Regions from separate parts of the Homo sapiens genome. Here region 1 is linked to region 2. The links come from fine-mapping of genetic effects on plasma protein levels. Region 2 holds a variant in brackets. A gene starts in the other region. All regions are shown on their forward strands.

Region 1 (2,924 bases), not on the chromosome of region 2:
GTCCTGGGCCCTGTAACCTCCAGGAGTCCCTGAGGCCTATGCATTTTCAACTGCAAAACACCCACCACCCCCATCTTATAGGATTTTTCAGAAGGTGCAAATATCTTTGGACCTCCAGCCTACAGTTTTTCAGGCAGATTCAAGTAGTTCAGTGGTTTATCCTGGAATATTTTCTTTTCTTGGTTTCCAAATAACCTCTCATTACCCTCATTCCCTTAATCTTCAGAATGTGGCCACTCTCAGGCTCAATGAGGCCTTTTCTGCAACTATCCAAAACTCAAGGTTATATTATACATATGGGAATCATTGCATAACCCCAACCCAACATGTGTACATGTGAAGGAAAGTGAGCATGGCAAGCCTGATATGCAGGTGCAAACGTGATATAGCCAGTAAGTGACTTGGAAGCTCTGCAGTAGGGTGGGTAACTGCAGAAGGCACAGGCCAGAAAGGCTTCATGAAGCAGGTGGAAGTGCACATGAGCCTGGAAGACCCAGTAGTATATCCATGAGGGGCAGGACTAGCCGTTGAGTGATGTGGGGGATGCATGGATGTTTAAGATGTGGTCAGTACCTTACATTGAACACAAAAGTGTCCAGTTGAGAGGATTGTGTGGGCTTTGGTGATGTACTAGATCATCAAGACATAAAAGTGGATGTGATTGATTAGCATAGGGATTTACCAGGCATTGTTAGATGCTTTATATTAGTTATCTTATAAAAAAAAATACTCCTAAAAACCTCTGAGGAACATAATATTATCCTCACTTCATAGATGAGAGAGCAAAATTTCAGAGAGGTATGGTAACCTACGAATTCACACCGCTAAGAAATCAAAACGGCAGGATTGAAATCCAGGTCTCCTTGGCTCCACAATCACCAGATTAACTAGGTTAATCTCTAGATTACTCTAAGCAATGAGAAACTGAAGAAAACTAGAAAAACATTATATGAAACACTTTTCAGAGGAAACCAGACAATATGATCAATGAAAGGTGATTGTCTTGCAGTTCTACTTCCTTTCCTGGCTCTACTTGCTGCTGCCCGGTGCCCATTCATTTGTCTTCTTACTAATAGTACATTTAGGAACACTTATGTAAAAAGAGAAATGGGATAAACTATCATGACTCTGTCATTACAAATATAAGAAAATAGAAAAAAATCTGTTAAAGTGAATTACAAATGTGTATGGATTAAGCGGCTTTTTAAGGATTAGAATAGTTACCAAATGTAAAAAGGAGGAAGAAGCTCATCCTTGAAAAACATCTAAATCTGTTCCAGGTTGGCGGGGAGAAAGTTCTCCTAATCAAAGTGCCAGAAAACTCTGAAGCCTAAACCAACAGGTGCAGAGATACTCACCAAGGATCAAGGAGAATAGCAGAGCCATGACCAAGGCAGGTGAAGGTGATGAGCTGAAATTTAAGGCTAGAAGGAGGTCCCCAAGCAGCAATATTTAGTTTTAGCTGCAAGTATGTTAAGAGGAGGGACAAAGACAGGTCCTGAGTGCAGGCAAAGCATTATCAGATGATCAGAAACCAATAGACTCGGGGGGCAGAGCTGACAGAGCTGGACTTGCTGAAATCAGCATGTTCCAGAGGAAAGGAGGTGGCCAGAACTGGCGGAAAAATGCTGAAAACAAAATAGAAACAGGCTATCATGACTTGGTTCTGCTGTAAGTCCAGCTCCGTCTGTCTCTCCTACAGCCCCTTTGCTATGTAAACAGAGGAAACACCTCCCACAAGGAAAGGCAGGTGCCAAAAATATGGCCATCTCTCAGTAGAAGACAAGGCAGTACTTAGTCGCCAAGGATGGTTTGCAAGGGAAATAAGCCAATTTTGATTCCTTTACCCCAGAGGGAAGTGCCTAGAAAATTTGGAAGCCAGAGGCCATGGGATAAATGCAGAGTTGCCCTTGGAGGCATATCCCATAAAACATAATCCAGGGTCATGGTGCCAATCTCCACATACAGGCCTGGCTTTATTGTCTTCAAACCTGCTTTCTCACTGCTAAGCAGAGGGTCCAATATACAGATTTGTTATTTTTCTATGCTTGTGCTGGTGTATGCCCATCTTTGGAAGCTGGATGGAAACAGATCCCTGAGGTGAGGGGCATCATAATCATTGAACTCAAGTTGTCTGTAGGTCTAAGACATGATGGACAGAGATTAAGCAGTAAGACCCTCTCAGGCCCCTCTGCTTTGCTATATTATTAAGTATAGCTATGCTTCATGAGCTATTCTACTCCAGATTGATCAAGCAATCAATTTTGTATGCTGACATAATCTCTGCATTCCAAGCAGGGTAATTGTTCCTCTACAGTAATAATTTTTGCTTCTTTGTAATATTCAGGTAACTCAGCAGAAAGCTTGGTTCATTGTAGGCATTCATTTTTAATCCCACATTTCTTCATTTACTTAGTATTGTATTCAATGAAAAGTTTTTAGCACTCATGAATGCCAGGCAATGTGATGGGTGGAGGCAGTACATGAAGGAACAAGGGATAGTTTTGCACTGTAAAAATATATGGTCTAGTAATTGCAATAACATGTGGAAACCACTGTTAAGAGAGAAAAGTATAACAAACTTTGGAGGCCAGGCGAGGTGGCTCATATCTGTAATCCCAGCACTTTGGGAGGCCGAACTGGGAGGATAGCTTGAGCCCAGGAGTTTGAGGCTGCAGTGAACTATGATCAGGCCACTGAACCTCAGCCTGAGTGACAGAGTGAGATCACATCTCTAAAATAAGAAAAAGAAATGAAACCTTGGAGGAAATGGTTACTATGTTTGGAGCTAATCAGAGAAGACTTCACAGCAATGATGATACTTGAGCAGGGGTTTAGGATGAGTTAAGTGGAGAATCAGAATAGGAAAAGATTTTGCTATGCATATGCAGACAAGTGAAACAGCATTACTTATTCAAGGAACC
Region 2 (2,924 bases):
TGTCACCCAGGCTGGAGTGCAGCGGCATGATCTCGGCCCAATGCAGTCTCTGCCTCCTAGGTTCGAGCGATTCTCCTGCCTCAGCTTCCTGAGTAGCTGGGATTACAGGTGTGTGCCACCATGCCCAGCTAATTTTTGTATTTTTAGTAGAGACGGGGTTTTACCATGTTGGCCAGGCTGGTCTTGAACTCTTAACCTTGTGATCTGCCCTCCTCGGCCTCCCAAAGTGTCAGGATTACAGGCGTGAGCCACCGTGCCTGGCCCATTTTCTTTTTTAAGATGGAATCATGCTCTGCCGCCCAGGCTGGGGTGCAGTGGTGCGATCTTCTCAGGGCTCACTGCAACCTCCATCTCCTGAGTTCAAGCAATTCTCTTGTGTCAGCCTCCTGAGTACAGCACCTGCCACCATGTCATTTTTTTTTTTTTTTTTTTTTAGTAGAGATGAGGTTTTACCATGTAGGCCAGGCTGGTCTCGAACCCCTGACCTCAAGTAACCTGCCTGTCTCGTCCTCCCAAAGTGCTGGGATTACAGGTGTGAGCCACTGTGCCTGGCCACATATTGAACATTTATGTGCTCAAATCCCAGGAGGGTTTCTAATTCCTTGGTTACTTAATAATGTCACAACTAAATGAATGCTTCAGTTATCCAGATTTCTCTAAGCCCAGGTTATGGTAAACAGATTTATTTCTATATTGTGAGTTTGAATTTCTTTTCTAATTATGAGTGACTCCTCTCTCAAAGGACATGCAAATCTTTTTATCCTGCCTCTGCCCCATCACCTGGGTCCACAAAAAAGCATCTGTGTCTACTTCTGAAAATGCAAATTATTTGAATGTGCCAGAGTAAGTAAAAAGGAAGTGGTGCATGCATGGTGTAGTTTGTAAATGTAAGAGTGACTTGAGACAGATGAGATCCTTTATTGAAATTAATAGTTAATGAATTTTCCCAAGAGAAACACCATTTAGTAGAGGTGACAATGGTAGTTACCGAAAACCCTATTTAAATCACGCTTGCCTTAAAAAACTAAAAACCAAAAAACCAAAAAAATCTTGTCTATTTCATCTTGTCTGGTTTGCATTATGTTCATTACCTGATTCTTCTTTCTAAAAGGAGAGATACAGTTCTGAAAATAGTTATTGCCTAAAGGGAGAAAACAAATTCTTTTCCTGGTATTGCAGTTTTGTTATTTGTTTTCCAACAGGTTAAAGGATTTAATTATTCAGATGCTCTAGAACTGTTCTCTGCATATTCTTTTGATCATACGCCCTATCAAGCAGGTACTTTTTGAGCAGACACACCCAATATATAAGTTTACATATTTACTTATAAATTATGTACATGTACTATGGTGCTGATAATATATATACATTATTCAGCATACACTAAAATAGAGATTAAAAGAACACATTAAGTCAGTGTGAATGGAAGTTCCAATATTTTCTTCCTACACTCTGTGGCTATGCTGGACTCTCCCTGGGCCATGCTCACTCAGTTCACTCTGGGGACCCCCTTCACCCCACCCAGCCTAGTCCAGGTCATGGGATTGCAGGACCTGAATAAAAACACACCATTAGTACTCATACTCTGCCTAGGGAGGCTAAGGGAAGAAAAGTTTGCTAAAGGTCCTGAATAAAGCTCATCGAACTCCAAATTCTTCACCTTTAAAGAGAACATGCTACAGTGCACAGCCTGG[C/A]ACCTGGGGCAGAGTGGTGATCAGGAAGGGGAAATTGATGTTCTCCTCCTATTTCTGCTGCTGTTCTGTTACTGCAGCTGTTAACTGCTAGTTCATAAATCTTTTATCTAAAAATTCACAATTCAGAAACTTTTGCAAATGGAAAGGATTTTGTTTGTAAGAATCCTTACCAGGGTTTGGTAGCAAACTCTGACTTGGACTCTTGTGTAACTATTTCTGTTCTATGTAGTAGTTATATATCCCATTAAGTTTGAATTGTGATATGTTTGATGATGAAATACTGTCTCCAAACCATTTAGGGTATTGTGTAATATATGATACACTCTCTAAATTCTTAAATTTCTGAACTCCAAAAACAAACCTGGCCCAAGGTTGGTTTAACCTCTGTGATGATTATTTCTACTTTGAAGCTTGTTGCCCTTTTGTTCAGGTTATTGCTGTATGATCATTTGGTGAAGGATACTGCTTTTTGATGGACATGATCGCTTGTAAAGGCTTCCCCAGGTCTCTACTGTAGGGAAGAGTGCGCCTGTCCTGATTCAGTCATTTGTAAACTATTGTTATTGTTTGGACAGGAATAGCAGATGGCTTAGTCTCACCCTTGTGCACTGAATGCCCTCCACATCACCATGTAATTGTCCTTTCCAGATCATACATTGGGTAAGGAACCTTCTGATCTCTGCCCTGTTCTTAATCTCCTTCAACCACTTTCTCTTCCCCTTTGGCTGTTCACCAGTGAGGTCATTTGCTTTATCTCTGGAATATATGAAAAGGCTCCACCTGTACCTCTCATGTTGTCTTCTCACTTCTGTTTTCTCTACCCAAGGAACCTTGAGTGCCTTTCCTGGGGATTCTGGCCACGGAAACTTCTCCTGTTCCTCAGGGGCAATAAGGGTATGCGAAAATTCCTCCCCGACTCAGGATCCAGTGGGCTTGCCATGGTGCATTCAGAGGCTCTGCCATCTCTTTAGCATTCCTTTCCAGGCTGCAGTCTACCCCCTGAGTCCAGCCCACTCAACTTTCTTGTTCAGCTTTGGCATCATCTCATGATTGGAGGGTGCAGCCTTCATTGATAGGCTGGCATTCTTTCCAGAGTGACAGTGCCAACTCTCTTCTTCTTTCTGCCCTCTCGTCTTCTCTCATGGGCCACAGAGTGGTTGGGAATACAGGTTGTGGGCAGACAGTAAATGGGGCTTCCAACACCATATTAAGGACTTTGAACTTGTACAA

Direction of the effects. Alleles are on the strand shown, and positions count from the first base shown. The strength of an association depends on the size of the effect and on how common the allele is.
As copies of A replace C in region 2, the plasma level of the protein whose gene starts at base 1,493 in region 1 goes up (weak association).

What was found. PIP is the chance, under the fine-mapping model, that this variant and not a neighbour inherited with it causes the effect. The UK Biobank Pharma Proteomics Project read protein levels with antibody pairs (Olink). The fine-mapping took linkage between variants from a reference panel, not from the people measured, so its PIPs are less certain.
Region 1: CD5L starts here. The variant in region 2 is fine-mapped to the plasma level of the CD5L protein (UK Biobank, PIP above 0.99).

What each region holds. Positions count from the first base shown.
Region 1 is chr1:157,840,316-157,843,239 of GRCh38, forward strand. It overlaps CD5L (CD5 molecule like), which reads right to left and starts at 1,493. Exons shown (of 6, transcript NM_005894.3): 1 at 1,359-1,493. The coding sequence starts at 1,386.
Region 2 is chr15:94,257,622-94,260,545 of GRCh38, forward strand. All of the region lies in intron 1 of MCTP2 (multiple C2 and transmembrane domain containing 2), which reads left to right. Among named protein-coding and RNA genes, the nearest start is that of MCTP2, 28 kb to the left of the region's middle. The variant C/A (reference allele first, on the strand shown) is at 1,695.